2 separate regions of the Homo sapiens genome follow, and region 2 is linked to region 1. A link means that fine-mapping ties the variant in region 1 to the expression of a gene that starts in the linked region. Tissue or cell type: whole blood. Region 1 holds a variant in brackets; the other region holds the start of a gene. All regions are shown on one strand. Distances are from middle to middle.

What was found. PIP is the estimated chance that this variant, and not a neighbour inherited with it, causes the effect.
Region 2: PLD4 starts here. The variant in region 1 is fine-mapped to the expression of PLD4 in whole blood (INTERVAL, PIP above 0.99).

The regions. Positions count from the first base shown.
Region 1 is chr14:105,009,463-105,017,560 of GRCh38, forward strand. It overlaps CDCA4 (cell division cycle associated 4), which reads right to left. Exons shown (of 2, transcript NM_017955.4): 2 at 111-2,473. The coding sequence starts at 2,467. The coding sequence ends at 1,742. Among named protein-coding and RNA genes, the nearest start is that of CDCA4, 7.6 kb to the right of the region's middle. The variant G/A (reference allele first, on the strand shown) is at 3,399.
Region 2 is chr14:104,919,946-104,928,043 of GRCh38, forward strand. PLD4 (phospholipase D family member 4) reads left to right here and starts at 4,934. Exons shown (of 11, transcript NM_138790.5): 1 at 4,934-5,045; 2 at 7,196-7,285; 3 at 7,728-7,921. The coding sequence starts at 7,196. RefSeq lists enhancers at 2,663-2,712, 5,107-5,276, 5,259-5,768.

The sequences.
Region 1 (8,098 bases):
GACCCAGTCTGTTTTCCGACCAAGCACCCCTAAAGCGCTCAAAAGTCACATTCTCTGAGCAGTTTATAATTTTGAAGGCTACCAAAACAGGCACTACAACTACTACTAATGCTGAACAAATGATGTTTCTAAAAGATAAAAATGCTATACAGAAACAAAATAGTGCTTTAGATTTATTCCTATAAAACACATACCCTTTAAACTAGGGTCCATGAGGATTAACTTTCGACATCGGGGGCTGTCAGAGGTCGTGGACACCCCCAACTCCAGCCGGGCGCTGAACAATGTAAAAAGAATTTGCTCTGCAACCCTGTGGGGGGGGGAAATAAAAGTAACCCAGCGTCCATTTAATGCAGCCAAGTGCAATTCCTTTCCCCACCTTAGAAAGCACCACCAGATAATACAGCAGAACTGATCCTGCAGAAAGGTTGCTGGAGGGTCAGGCCGTGGTCGTAACTAACACCACATTCCCATTTTGTTTGCTGGATAATTTTTTAATAAAGTGAGGTTTACATCACTGATATTTAAGAATGGCTATATGCACAAAAGAAAACACACCTTTTTGGTTAAGGGGTGAGGAAGTTAGAGAAAGCATGAGAAACAGGGAGCATGTGGGGTGAGGCGGGGCAGGAGTGGAAGGCTGCAGGCACCCCCAGCTCACTCCCTGCCTGCGGCAGCACCCATGACACTACAGATCAAGGGGTTATGAATGACATGGATTCAGATTTCTTTCATTCTAGACTTCAACCTAGCCTTAACCTTTTGTTTCAGCACCAGTCTAACAGAGCAGCGCAGGCGTTTCTCATCCAGCAGCAATGCTACTTCCTCACCCAGGGCAGGTGCATGGGCTGACCCTGATGGGAGCCTCCAGGAACACTGCCTTGAGAAGGCACCACCGAGGGGCTATGAGGTCCCTGAAGACCAACTGGTGCCTGTGATCTACAAACAGACAAATATTTGACCTTTGTCTTCAATGACATTTACATATAAATAGACATAAATAAAATCCTCCATAATTTACTCTTAGGTCTAGGAAGATGTGGCTGTGTGCGGCTCCTGATTTTCACCCAGGTCTCACTGCAGCGCAGGACATAATGAAGAAGTATCACACACACATTTAAAGTAAAACATGATACATTCACACTGTTGACTGAGACTGTAGTGATGCTCACTGCAAAAAACAAAACAAAACAAAAAACCCTTATTTAAACCTTAAAAAAATGAAACACACCAACTGCAATTGTTTAGGCTATAAAAGTTCTAATGTAGCAGCAAAGGATGTTTATAGAAAAAATATACTTTTAAGAAAATAGCTGAAAAAATCTAAAGAGATAAGGTATAAAAAGTTTAAAAAATATATCTTAAGACAAAATACTGCCCAAAACATGTAAAACTGAATTGTAAAAATTCACCTATCTAAAGGTAAAAGGAGGTTGATGCAGCTGCGGCTCACCGTCCTCTACAGTGGGGGACACAAAGAGACACGAGGGGCCCAGGGCTGTGGGGACGTCAGAAGACAAGAAGCCTTCCAGAACAGCCTCTGCCTGGCGCTCCACAGGGGGGAGGTGAGTGGGACGGGCCTAGGGCTGCAGCCCCACTGGTAATGGGCTGTTCTGGGATTTCTCAGAATCAGCAGACAGGGCAGCAAGGCTGGGCCGCTGGCGGCAGGCGCACCCTCCGTGGGAGCCAGTGCTCACGTGTCAATGCGTCAGAGGCGGCTGTGAGCACTCAGGGCTCCTGCTCAGGTCTCCACCAGGATCTCCACCACGTGGTCCAGCTCGCCCAGGTCGGACTTGCAGCTGGAGCTAGGGCCTGGGGTGGCCGGAGCCAAGCCCTCGAGCCCTTCGCAGGGGCCCGGCCTGGCACCCCCCATCATGCCTGTCAGTACTGTGTCCAGGTCGTAGTAGGGGCTGTCCACGTCTGAGAACAGCTCTTCCATGCAGCTGGGGTTTTTAGTCTCCAGCGTTTCAAATATCTGATCAAGTGACTTGTGAAAGCTTCCTCTGTTTTCTCGAGGGCCATCCATCTCCCAGGCGCTGCTCTGCAGGTGCCTTGGTGCCTGTGCTGAGGTGACTGGGCAAAGGTCAGAAACTGGACCCTGTGTGTGGCCGTCCCCCAAGCCAGGAGCAGGATGTGCCCCCTCTTGCCCCCACGCTGCACGGCACAGGATCTCCGTGGAGACCAAGCGGTCGAGCGGCGCCCGCTCTGCAGCCTGGGGTGCCACTGTGCGCCACGTCCCATCCTGCGTCATCTCCTCTTGGATCTGCCGGACCGTGTTGGCAATGAGGACTGAGCGGCACAGGTTGGGCTCCACAAGCATGTGGCAAAGCTGCAACTTCACCAGAGACATGTCCAGGAGCGACTGCCGCTGCAGGCTGTATGAGGACACTGTCTTCAAGCCGGCCAGGGCTCCCTCCACGTCTTCCTCGTGGCCAACACATTTCCTCTTCAGTCCTCGTGCAAACATTGTGTCCTGCAGAAACCAAGGAAGACACCACTTAGCACACGGCAGACTCTCTGCGGACAGCGCCCCTTGGATTTCGTCTGACTGCCCTCACTGTACGCAAGGAGCAGCGACTCCGTAACTGGCAGGGACTTGACAGAGCTGTAACTCCCTAACAGAGCTGAGACGTGGAGCCCAGTGGGAGACCCCCACCCCCAGATCAGCTGCCATCCTGCCTAAGCCAGGCACAGTCACGTTGTTAGAAACGACAAACCTCTCAACTGTACCACGACAGTGTTTTATAGCAAAAAAGATAAATGAACTAAAAATAGGAGAAATATATAAGAGAAATGTAAGTGTTCGAGAGCTTGGCTGAAAATCTGTTTCAAAAATCTAACTGTGGTGTGTACAAAAGAAGAGACCCTGGGGTAACATGAGATTAATGTGAACCGTGCCAGCCTGCAGAGGGCGCAGGGCGGGGGCCGGACAGGGCCGGGCACACACACGTACCATTCTGACTTCCCTCAGGATCCTGCCTCGGACAAAGTCACTTCTGCGTTCAGAAGAGTTAGTGCCTTCCCCCTCAATGCTTTCACTAAAAGCCTCTATATGTCGCAGACAGCCGGGCTGGAAAGCTGTGCCACCAGGAACGCGCAGGGGAAGGACTGCAGGGCTGTATGCTCATCCCATGCAGCGAGTGGTCTGTGTTTCGTGCACAATTCTCCAAGGGACACAGGGTCTCCTGGCCGAGCCTATGTGGCCCTGGACAGTCCCTTGCTCCCACACCCGCCCATGCTGCCTGCCTTAGGGATCACACCCATTCCTTGGCTCCCCCCACCCGCCCCACCAGTTCATTTCTCCCAAGGTGCACAGGCTCTGCCTGGCTGCTTTCTACTTGACATCTCTCAGGTCAATGCCCTCCACTCGAGAGCTCTGACCAGCCCGTACAACCATG[G/A]CCTCAGGGGCCACCTCCCCTCTCATCTCAACTCCTTTCTCTTCAAAGGAACCAAAACATGGCAGGGTATGTGTGTGTCCGGGGCAGGGGGGGTGGGTTCCTCACCAGTGTGTTGTGGCAGCCCAGAGCTGGCCAAGGCAGTGTTTCTCGGCGTATGCCTCAGCACTGGCGCTGTTGGTTGAAGATGCAGATTCCTGGATCTTACCCCAGACCTGGGCAACTCCGGGATGGCACCTAAGGCTCAGCCTTGCTGGGCAGGTTCCACTAAGACGCACAGCACAGATGCACTAGATGGACATTGGCCATGTCTACTCTCAGAAGTACAAGTCTGTGCAAACTGTTTTTTTTTTTTTTTAACTGATTCTAAATTGGGACATCTCTGGGGCACTAAAGGCAGAGCAGACAGGAGGGTGGGCTCTGGCTTTTGACAGATGCCATTCTGAGCCAGTGCCGCCTGCGGGGAGCTGGGAGGATGACAGCTGGCTCAGGGCCATACTGGCCGGCAGAGTCTGACAGGACAAGCATCTCACGCATGATTAAGTTTCTCTCTTCTCATGCTTGTAATGTAGTGAAATATTATTTCAAATAATTCAAGTTATGCATAAATAGGGTTACAATCTTTTGAATATGCAAACTTTGGAACTTCTTTTTCTCTTAGTCAATCTGATGGCTCCCTGTGACCAGGGTATACCCAGGTGCTCTTGGAAAGCTGGCGTATGGGAGGCACATGCTGTCTCTGCTCGGGGTCTGGAGACCAAGGATGGGAAGTTTTGCAGTGCGGGAGAACTGGCTGCCAAACATACCCCTTCCCAGGAGCCCCTCTGGAGGCTCCCACCTGCTGGTCCTACCCTTGAATTAACAGAAGAAAGGGTCCCCCTGTTCTCTGAATTTCCCTTCAGTGTCACAGATCTCATCCCCGTGCCTTTAACACATGTAAATTTTAAAAAACTAAGTGACCTCTTGGGCATTTATCCCAGAGAAAAAGCCAATGTTCATGCAAAAAACATGTTCCAGAATGTGCACAGCAGCTTTATTTGTAGTAGCTCCAAATCTGAAACAAGGAAAATGTACCCTTCACCTGGGCACGGTGACACACACTCTGCTCCATTCATGCCACCAAATCCTACTCTGCAATAGAAAGAAATGAACTGTTGATACACAGGACGGATCCTTCCACAGGGGCATTAGGCTGAGGGAGAAAAGCCAACCTCAGAAGGGTGCTTGCTATGGGATCCCATTTATGCCACATTGTCATGCTGACCCAGAGCTGAGGGGTGGCAGGGCTAGAAAGGAACCTGCGCAGGGAGATCTTGGGGGTGAGGGCCCTTCTGCTCCTGGGCTGTGGGGGTGGCCCTACCCTGACTGCACAGCGCCGGACACGCACACATGCGCCTGCGGCAGCCGTGTCATCACACGGACCTGGGGCCTGGCTGTGCATCCTACAAGGATGCCGGCCCTGGGGAGCAGAGGAAGGGCACATAGGACCTCCTGAACACTGCTCTGCAACCTCCCCTGGCTCTACAATTATTTCAAAATTAAAATTAAAGGAAAACTTCCCTAACCCTAGCTTATTTCCCCTACAGCACCCATTTCCCCAGAGCAGCATGCCAGTGTCACCACAGGCACAGCCCTCAGGCTGGGCACCGCCTCTCACACCTGCATACACCAGCTTCTCAACTAATTCTAAATGAAGGACAGTTTACCACCAAAACACATTTACACATTTCTATTACTTTTGGTAAATATTCGAGTTCTTTGTGTCAGCCACAAATTTAACTTTTCAGAGCTTTTCCATCCCAATCCATTGTTTAAATCACTGGCTTAAAATTGCTAAGTATATCGAGAATTAACATAAGGCTATGTCAAACTACAAAGGACACCCTGCGTTGGGGAAAAGATTAAGTCCCACGGGTTCCTCTGTGGGAAGTCAATATACCTTTTAGGTTTTTAGTTTCTCTTTCAACCTATCTCAATCCCAAGCCTGCATAGCAATGGATTAATTTAGGACCCAAACCAAATCCTCTTGAACAGCATGCATTAAGCCCAAGTTTATAGACAGAAGAACCCCTGGCTGCCTCCCCTGACTCTGGAAACCCAGCAGCACAACCCCCATAATGTGGGGCCTACAGGAGGTCAGCACGACTGAGCAGGGCAATCAGGGCAACTCACAGAAGGAACAAGAATACCAATGGGACAGGCCAAGAAGACCCACAACCACACTGGGAACCAGTTCAAGAAGCTGTCCCAAGCTCCTAGGACCCTCTGGGTCCCACTTTCCTTTCCTCTGAGTCCTTAGAAATGCCAGGTCCTGAGTCCAAACCCAACGACAGACCCTCCCGCCCTTTTCTGAAAGCCAGATATGGATACTAGAAGCCTCCCACTGGGGATCTTAAGAGGATGAATTCAGTGCTTGGCCTGGTGCTGTCAGCGGTCCTAAGGGCAGCACTAGCAATACGTGACCGTCAGAAATCACCCTAATAACATCTGCTCTGAGCGAGGGAATATACCAACAAACAATGGCGGAACCACATACAGAAACAGAACTCTCAGCCATTATCTGCCGCCATCAGTCGGAAACCAGCCCTTTACCTTCAGTAACGGGCCAGGAAGCCAGGTTGCCCTAGTCAGACCTGCAGGAAGCCTGGCTGCTTTCTCTAGGAACAATCCAGGAAGCTAAACAATCATTTCCATAGCAAGCAGCCCAAAATGGCCAGGACATGATTAGTAACCGACAACCTCTCCAGTTTTTGTCCCTGCTTCCAATTTAGGACCAACCAGAGAAAGCCAAACATGTTCTAGGCCATCTCACAGGAGCCCCACTTCTTTGTTGTTGTTGTTGTGTCGCCCAGGCTGGAGTGCAGTGGCGCAATCTCAGCTCACCGCAACCTCCGCCTCCCAGGTTCAAGGGATTCTCCTGCCTCAGCCTCCCGAGTAGCTGGGATTACAAGGGTGTACCACCAGGCCTGGCTAATTTTTATATTTTCAGTAGAGACTTACCATGTTGGTCAGGCTGGTCTCAAAACTCCTGACCTCGGGTGATCCACTCACCTTGGCCTCCCAAAGTGCTGGGACTACAGGCGTCAGCCACCGTGCCAGGCCAGGAGCCCCACTTCTAACTGGCCACCCCAGTCCCCCAAGTCAGCAGCCTCCATCAGCCATCCCTGAGCTTCCCTGGATTCCACTGTAAAGCTCTCCTGTTCCCTCACCTGCCTATGAGTTTCTGCCAATCACGAGAGAGGAGGGCCGCACCCTTGCTAGGGGAAGCTCTGGATAAACAGCCTCTGCCTGTTCTCACCTGGTTGCTTATTTCCACAGCTCACCATAGACAATCTGGAAGAGCATCAAAAACCATAAAACGAATTTTCTCCCAGGATCCCATCCACTCAGAAAAACACAGTCACCACCTGGGTTCCTCCTTTCCAGTCGTTTCTCCCAGCACTTTCCTCTCTGCACAAGGGAGGGAAGTTTCACACTACTGACAATTTTCCCAATCACAAATGATACCAGTTTCTAACTTTAGGTGTTTTGGTATTTCTAGCATTTGGCTTCCTTAGCCTCGGCTCTTTACTTACTAGGGTGATGTGCAGGTACATTTTTAAGAGGCTTGATAAACATTATTAAACTGCATCCTAAGAAGGTGGAACGCTCCACCAACTTTCTCCCGCACTATTTCTGCACACTTGCTGGTAAAGCTTCCTCTTGTTTTGCCAAGTCTCTAAGCCCCACAGCTAAGCGTTCCTTCCCTCCTCCACTGAGCTCCACGTCTGTGTTCCTACCCTGTTCCACGGCTGCTCTCCTGCCAGGACCAGACACCCTGGCCTCCCTGTGTAGGTCCTTTTCTGGCCATGCCACCCTTCAGCTCTGGGTCAGCCCAACAATGTGGCATAAATGGGATCCCACAGCAAGCACCCTTCTGAGGTTGGCTTTTCTCCTTCAGCATAATTCTCTTGAGATCCTTGCAAACTCTTGTGTGTCAACAGTTCCCAACAGAGTAGGATCTGGAGGCACAGACGGAGCAGAGTGTCACCACACCCCAGCTGAAGGGAACTTTTTCCTTGTTTCCAGTTTGGAGTTATTACACATAAAGCTGCTATGGACATTCTAGAACATGTTTTTGCATGAACATTGGTTTTTCATTTCTCTTGGATAAATGCCAAAGAAATAATCGTTTTATAAAATTTAGGAGTGTTAAATGCACAGGCAATGAGATCTATCACACCGAAAAGAAATTCAGAGAACAGGGGGAACCTTTTTTCTGTCTATTCAAGGACAGGACCAGCAGGTGTGAGCCTCCAGAGAGGCTCCTGGGGAGGTGGGGGGCGGTCCTTGGCCTAGTTTCATCACTCTCAGTTGTAAGCATTCTTTTTTTTTTTAGATGGAGTCTCACTGTCGCCCAGGCTGGAGTGCAGTGGTGCAATCTCGGCTCACTGCAACCTCCACCTCCTAGGTTCAAGCGATTCTCCTGCCTCATCTTCCCTCAACTTCCCGAGTAGCTGGGATTATAGGCGTGCACCACCACGCCCAGCTAGTTTTTTGTATTTTTAATAGAGCCGGGGTTTCGCCATGTTGGCCAGGCTGGTCTCGAACTCCTGACATCAAGTGATTTGCCCACCTCGGCCTCCCAAAGTGCTAGGATTACAGGAGTGAGCCATCACACCCAGCCACAAGCATTCTTTTAGGACTTAAACAGCCCGGGCACA
Region 2 (8,098 bases), 90 kb before region 1:
GGTAGTTCTGTTTTTAGTTTTTTGAGAAACTTCCATACAGTTCTCCACAATGGCTTCACTAATTTACATTCCCACCAACAGAGCATAAGTGTTCCCTTTTCTTGGCATCCTTGTCAGCATTTATTTTTTGTCTTCTTGATAACACCAATTCTAACTGGGGTGAGATGATATCTCATTGTGGTTTTGATCTGCATTTCCCTGATGACTAGTGATACTGAGATTTTTCTCGTATGCCTGTTGGCCATTTGTATGTCTCTTGAGAAATGTCTATTCAGATCTTTTGCCTGATTTGTTTTTTCAAGACTGAGTTTCGCTCTTGTTGCCAAGCTGGAGTGCAATGGCACAATCTCGACTCACTGCAACCTCAGCCTCCCGGGTTCAAGCGATTCTCCTGCCTCAGCCTCCCGAGTAGCTGGGATTACAGGCGCCTGCCACCACGCCCACCTAATTTTTTGTATTTTTAGTAGAGACAGGGTTTTGCCATGTTGGCCAGGCTGTTCTCAAACTCCTGACCTCAAGAGATCCGCCCACTTTGGCCTCCCAAAGTGCTGGGATTACAGGCGTGAGCCACCGTGCCCGGCCTATTTATTTTTTAAACAGTGTCTTGCTCTGTCACCCAGACTGGAGTGCAGTGGCATCATATTGGCTCACTGCAACCTCTGCCTCCTGGGTTCAAGTGATTCTTCTGCATCAGTCTCCCAAGTAGCTGGGACTACAGGCATGCGCCACCATGCCTGGCTAATTTTGTATTTTTAGTAGAGACAGGGTTTCATCAAGTTGGCCAGGCTAGTCTCAAACTCCTAGACTCAAGTGATCTGCCCACCTCGGCCTTCCAAAATGCTGGGATTATGAGCTACTGCACCTGGTCACATTAAAAAAAATTTTTTTAGCAACAGGGTCTCACTGTATTGTGCAGGCTGGTCTCAAACTCCTGGTCTGGAGTGATTCTCTCACCTTGGCCTCCCAAAACTCTGGGATTGCAGGCGTGAGTCACCTTGCCCAGCCTGCTGGGAGTTTTTATCATGAAGAAGGGATGTCGAATTTTATCACATGCTTTCTCTGTATCTATTGAGATGACCATACGGTTTTTGTCCTTTAATCTGTGATTTGACGTATTGCATGTATTGATTTGCGTATGTTGAACCATCCTTGCATCCCCAGGATAAATCCCACTTAGTCATAATGTATTATCTTTCAATGTGCTATTAGATTCAATTTGCTAGTATGTTGTTGAGGATTTTTGTGTATCTATTCATCAGGAATATTGACCTGTAGTTTTCTTTTTTGTTGTTGTGTCCCTGCCTGGTTTGAGTATCAGGATAATGCTGGCCTCATAGAATGGGTCAGAGAGAATTCCCTCCTCTTCAGTTTTTTGGAACAGTTTAAGGAGAAATGGTATTAGTTCTTTTTTGTAAGTTTGGTAGAATTTAGTAGTAAAGCCATCTGGTCTATAGGCCTTTTGCGTTGTTGTTGGGAGATTTTTATTACTGTTCCAATCTCATCACTCCTTATTGATCTGTTCGGGTTTTTTTGTTTCTTCCTGATTCAATCTCGGCAGCTACGCGTGTCCAGGGATGTCTCCATTTCCTCCAGGTTTCCAGTTTCTGAGTGTATAATTTCTCATGTAGTCTCTGGTGATCTTTTGTATTTCTGTGATATCAGTTGTAATGTCTCTTTTTTGTTTCTGGTTTTGGTTATTTGGGTTGTCTCTCTTTTTTTCTTCATTATCAACTTAGAATATTTTCAGCTTCCATTTATGATGGGCTTATCAGGACATAGCTCCACCATGAGGTGAGGTGTGTCTGATGTGCTTACGGTGGGGTTTAAGTGCTCCCACAAGCCTGCTCTGACAGTCTGTACTTATTTGGGGTAAAAAACAAAAAAAAACAAAAAAAAAAAAAACAAAAAACTTAGCTCTGCTGACAAATAATGAGTCATATTTTCCCACAAAGTTAATTTTTGAAATAACAAAGGAAATTAAAGAAAAAATGTTCAGGCTGGGCACGGTGGCTCACACCTGTAATCCCAGCACTTTGGGAGGCCGAGGCAGGCAGATCACGAGGTCAGGAGATTGAGACCATCCTGGCTAACACGGTGAAACCCCGTCTCTACTAAAAATACAAAAAATTAGCTGGGCGTGGTGGCGGGCACCTGTAGTCCCAGCTACTCGGGAGGCTGAGGCAGGAGAATGGCGTGAACCTGGGAGGCAGAGCTTGCAGTGAGCCAAGATCACACCACTGCACTCCAGCCTGGGCGACAGAGCGAGACTCCGTCCAAAAAAAAAAAAAGTAAAATGACAGGAAAAGATATAACATTCAAACAGCAACTCAAAGAGAGGTGGAGTTCCTATACTAATATCAGAAAATATAGATATTAAGACAAAAATTATTGTTAGAGACAAAGAAGGATGTGTTATAATGATAAGAGGGTGATCCATAAGGAAGATATAATAACTAGAAACACATATGCACTAGCTGGGCACGGTGGCTCATGCCTGTAATCTCAGCACTTTGGGAGCCTGAGGCGGGTGGATCACGAGGTCAGGAGATTGAGACCATCCTGGCTAACACGGTGAAACCCCGTCTCTACTAAAAATACAAAAAATTAGCTGGGCATGGTGGCGGGCGCCTGTAGTCCCAGCTACTCTGGAGGCTGAGGCAGGAGAATGGCCTGAACCTGGGAGGCGGAGCTTGCAGTGAGCCGAGATGGCGCCACTACACTCCAGCCTGGGCGACAGAGCAAGACTCCATCTCAAAAAAAAAAAAAGTTTTGCTTCATGGGAAATCCCCAAAGTCCCTCCCCACACCCCATGGGACCAAAGGGCCCTAGACCTCAGGGTGGGGCCTGCAGCGCAGGGAGCAGAGCCGGCAAGGAGCTGCCCTCAGGTCGTTCCTGGCCACACAGCCAGCCTCGGAGCCACTGAGAGGCCTGCCCTGGGTCCCGAATCTAGACGCCCCTTCCAGCCTCAATCTTTCTTCCAGGGTAAGCAGCCTGAGAGGCCAAGAGGACAGTCCACCGAACCCTGAGCCCAAGGCCCAGGATTCCTTGCTTAAACATCCCCAAGCCTGGATCCATCCTCCCGAGGTAGAGCTGCCTGAGCTGTACCCAGTCCTGCTGGCCTGAGGGGCAGCCAGGGGAGGTGACGTGGTGCTTTTCTGGGGCTGCAATGAGCTCAGACCCACGGGCTGGGTGTAGCATGTGGGCTCATTGAGGCCCCTCACAATGTGGGGAAATCGGAGAGGGGACTGGCTGGGGCTGGCCCTCCTGCAAGGACTTCTGAGAGTGCTCCAAGGAGCCCTGGGGTCCTCCACTTGCCCCTGGCCTTCCAGGCCCTCACACACCATTGTTGTCCAGACAGAAGAGACTGGGCGCTGTGGTTCACGCCTGTAATCCCAGCACTTTGGGAGGCCGAGGCGGGTGGATCATCTGAGTTCAGGAGTTCGAGACCAGCCTGGCCAACATGGTGAAACCCCGTCTCTAATAAAAAATACAAAAATTAGCCGGGCGTGGTGGCACGTGCCTTAATCCCAGCTACTTGGGAGACAGAGGCAGGAGAATCGTATGAACTCGGGAGGCAGAAGTTGCAGTGAGCCGAGATAAAGCCGTTGCACTCAAACCTGGGGTACAAGAGCGAGACTTCTCTCAAAGGAAAAAGAAAAAAAAAAAGACAGAAGAGAACCTGTTCTGTCTAACTGCCTTTTGCTTGAGTGCAGGGAAGGCAGCCTCCCTTCATACTCATGCCCCAGCCCTGCAAATGTCACAGCAGGACCCACCTGGCTGCCCCTCCCCATACCCAGAGTAACCCTCACCCAGAGTCCCTGGAGGACCCAACCCTCGGGGGCATGCCTGGGGCCCAGCTGCATTCAGGCATCCAGCAACCCAGCCAGAGGGCTGGGGCTCCCCAACCATGGCCGGGAGGTAAGGGCTGAACCCAAGGCCAAATCAGAGCATCAGGAAGGTGAAGAGAGATCTGGGAGGGGCTAGGGAGAGGATGGATCTCTTCCCCATTCACTTCCTGGCCCACCCAGACTGGCCCCAGGGGTGCAGCTGACAGGCCCCACCCTTGGGAACTGCACCCTCCTGACTGGTGTCCTGCAGGCACCCTGAGGCCATCACCCTGGACCCCTGCCCTACATAGGCCTTACAAGGAGGAGCCAGGGTGGACACCCAGACCTCATTGAAAGTAGGAGTGTTCTCAAGGTCCCAGACCTTACTCAGGGACCCCAGTCGGGGGGTGGGGCAGTGGGAGGCAGAGCCCCTTGCTAGGAGCTTCTAGCCAGGCCCACCTTTTCAGATATGCCAGTGAGCAGCCCCAGCTTCGTTCTCCAAGATAAAGACCCTAGTTACCTCCATTGCTCAGCCTCCCTTGCAGCTAAGTGTAGCCATGTGACTAAGTTCTAGATCAAGTTCCAGATCACAGATAAGTGGAAGTGCCCTGTGGGACTTCCAGGAAGTCTCCTCTGGGATGTCCCTTATTCTCTGCTAAGAACACAGAGGCAATGGCTGAGTTCCAGCAGCCACTGTGAGGCCATGAAGGCAGGGATCCTAGGGACTGGGATCTGAGAGCCTGGCTCCCAATGGCAGTGGAGCAATGCCATCATCTCTAGCAAGGCCGTCTCTAGCCTGCCAGCCCCTGGACCTGCTTAGTGTTCGAGAGTAATGAACAACCTTGCTGAAGCCACTGTTCCTTAGGTGTCTGTGGCCTGCAGCTGAACTTGACTCCGATTCGTAGGCCCGCAACTGGAGGGCCTCTACCTCGAGGGAGTGGGGTGTAGATTTTTCCTGGAGGTGAAGGTTCTCAGCCCTACCCTCTAGCCCGCCCACCCAGCTCCAGCCGTCTGTTTCTGTCTCAGATGAGAGGGGGCCTCTCAGGACAAAGAGGAAGTAGCTGGAAGGGGAAGGAGCCAGCTGCAGAGAGGAGGAGGTGAGCTGCAGAGAAGAGGAGGTTGGTGTGGAGCACAGGCAGCACCGAGCCTGCCCCGTGAGCTGAGGGCCTGCAGTCTGCGGCTGGAATCAGGATAGACACCAAGGCAGGACCCCCAGAGGTATGTGCCAATGAGGCCAGGGCAGCTGAGAAAAGCCAGGCATGGGGAAAGGGCTGCTGTCTGCCTCCCTATGGCCTCAGCCTCCCAGCAACCCCAGGTCCAGAGAGTCACACAGCCTCCAGCTAGTCCTGTAGATGACTCGCTCCGTCCCCAGTCCGTGCAGCTGGGATAAGCTGGGCCCTGGCTCTCCAGCCAGGTGACAGCTGGGCCCTCTACCTCAGCCTGGGACTGGCAGCCATGCCTAATGCCCTGCAGGGCAGGAAATCTGGCACCTTCAGCCATGACCTCTGATGTCTGCAGGGTCTTACGCTATCTACCATGGGACCAGGGGGCTACAGCCCTACTCTGCAGGGGTCTCTCAGCTTGAGCCAACCTGGCTGGCGGTCCTCCCAGGTTCCATTGCAGGAGGAGGTGGTGAGGCGCTCTGGGGTCTGTAGTCCTGGGAGGGGACTTGGACAGGCTCCAAGTCTGAGATGGGGCCTGCAAGAGGCAGCGCCTCTGTGCTCTGAGCTGCCCGTCTGCCTGGAGCATTTAAGGGAGCAAAGGTCCTCTCTGGTGAGGGCAGGGAGTGTGGGGAGCAGCTGTCCAAGAACAGCCCTGGCACCTCGTTGCCCAGCCACAGCCCAGGATTCCATGTTTCCTCTCATTGACCAGCCACAGCCCAGGATTCCATGTTTCCTCTTCTGAGAGTTAGTGGGGGAGAGCAAAGGCCCGATGCTGGGCCCTGAATCCCTGGGGACAGTGGGGACACGGTGGGCACCCTGAGGTCTCCTCTGTGGGGTGGGGGGAGCATCCCCCAGAGTTCAGCTCTGGGGTGGGGGCGGCACCCACCCACCTCTGCAGGACCCCCCAGCGTGGGGGGAGTTGGGCCGCAGTGACTTGGCCTGAGTCCCCTGTCCCCACACTTGGTTTATGCTCCTACCCCCAATCCCCCATAACGCTTGGTCTCCAGGGCAGACTCAGTCCAGGCCCGACTCCTGTGGTGTTCCTGGCATTTCCGCCCCATGCTGAGGCAGGCCAGGTTCTCAAAGCCCTCAGCCCTGACCCGTGGGAGGACAGCCCAGACGAACCCCAGAGGCCTGGAGGCTGAGCTGGCTGCTCCTGGGTGGACAGCCGACCCACCGAGCCCTGGGTCCCAGCGCCCAGCCTGGCTGCAGACACTGGCACTCAGCACTGCCCAGGCCCAGGCCCCAAACCTCGGAGACATCCCCATCCCAGCCAGGGGCCAGCCAGCTCCTGCCCTGGTGGATGTCTCAGTCAGAGGCTGGCCAGCCAGGTGACCATGCTGGGCACAGACCCCTCCCTGCACCCGGGGAGGGCGCCTCTGTACTTGTGAGGCACCCTTCCCCCATGGTGGCACCTGGGGCAGCCTGACTGCTTGCTTTGGGGGTAGGAGTGGGGATGGGAGCCCACATCCCACAGGGCCCAGATGGCCTGGCTCCCAGCTCCTTGTGGGGTGACCACTCTGAGGAGATAAGGCGAGTCCCTGCAGCAGAGGACAACCCCCTCTGCCAGCAGTAGGGGTCCCACTCTGCCGCCATCTCTGCCCTCTCCACGCCTAGCCTCTCCAGCAAGGGTACTGCTCAGCTGCCCCCTCTGACCTGTGGCTCTCTGGAGGGGCTGCCGTGGGGCCAAGACAGGAGCCCAGCCCAGGAGGGAAGCAGTTATTTATAGGCCAGCAATAAGAGGACCAAGCGACAAAAGCAGAAACAGCCCTTTCAGACGCAGTTTCAGTTGTGGTTGAAACAGGGAACTGAGATGCAAATACCTAGATACTCACTGAGTGGGAGACCCTGAAAGGGGAGACACAGAAAGCCGGGGCATGTGGCTAGGCACAGACGCCCGCCCGCCCCTCGTGCTTGGCCCAGGCTCAGCCCTGGGGACCGCCTTAACAGCAGTCCTTCCGGCTTGGCCAGGGGGACAGGACAGGTGACATGTGGCCGGCTGCGGGCTCCAACACCCACACGGCTTGTCCTCGTGGAAAGCACACCCCCAACATCCAGGGCGTGACCTCGGGCATGAGTGGGGGGCTTTTGGGGGCTTATGTGGGTGTCTGTGCAGGGGTGTCCCCAGTGCCCAGCTGCCCAGGCACTGAGGGGCAGTTCTGGGCAGAGCTGGAGCTGCTGGTGATGCCAGGCTGCCCTGTGCAGATGCTGAAGCCTCTTTGGAAAGCAGCAGTGGCCCCCACATGGCCATGCTCCATGCCGCCCCGCCGCCCGTGGGACAGAGAGGCTGGCACGGTAGGACTGGGGGGCCCCAGGGGGGAGGTGGCTGGGATCAATGGCCTTTCAAGAGCTCCGAGCCAGAGTGGAGAGGTCACAAGCAGCCTTGAGGGGGCCTCCAAGCAGAGGTGCCCTGACTGGTGGGCAAGGGAAGCCTCCCTGGGCTGCTCCAGACCTTCCCTTTATGCCCCTGCTGGAGGTGCTGGGGACAGCCAGTTACCACGAGCCACAGCATTGCAGAGTGGGCTGCAGGCCCCCTGACCCCTGCCACCACCCTGGGCTGGGGGCCTTCTCTGTATCACCCTCCCCTCTCCCTTGTCCACCCTAGTCCCACCCCAGTGGCAGCCCAGGTCCGGGAAGTCAAGACGGTCTCTGTCTCAGCACTGGAGGGGCCATCGTGGCCCAGCCAGAAGTCAAGCCCCGCCCTGTCTGGTGACCCTGCGGGTGCTGCCCCATCCAGTTGCAGGTCCTGGGAGCGCTGGCTGTGCTGTGGCTGGGCTCCGTGGCTCTTATCTGCCTCCTGTGGCAAGTGCCCCGTCCTCCCACCTGGGGCCAGGTGCAGCCCAAGGACGTGCCCAGGTCCTGGGAGCATGGCTCCAGCCCAGCTTGGGAGCCCCTGGAAGCAGAGGCCAGGCAGCAGAGGGACTCCTGCCAGTAAGTGAGCCCATGGAGGCCTGCGGGGGCAGGTCTCAGTTTGGGGCTGCTGCCTGTGTTTCTGCCCTTGGATCTGCCCGTGAGATAAGGGGGGCCCTCTACCAGCTCCTCCAGGAAGGTGCAGGTCACCAGGGAGGGCCACGACCATATGAGCTGGAGTGGGGGCTGGGGACGGGG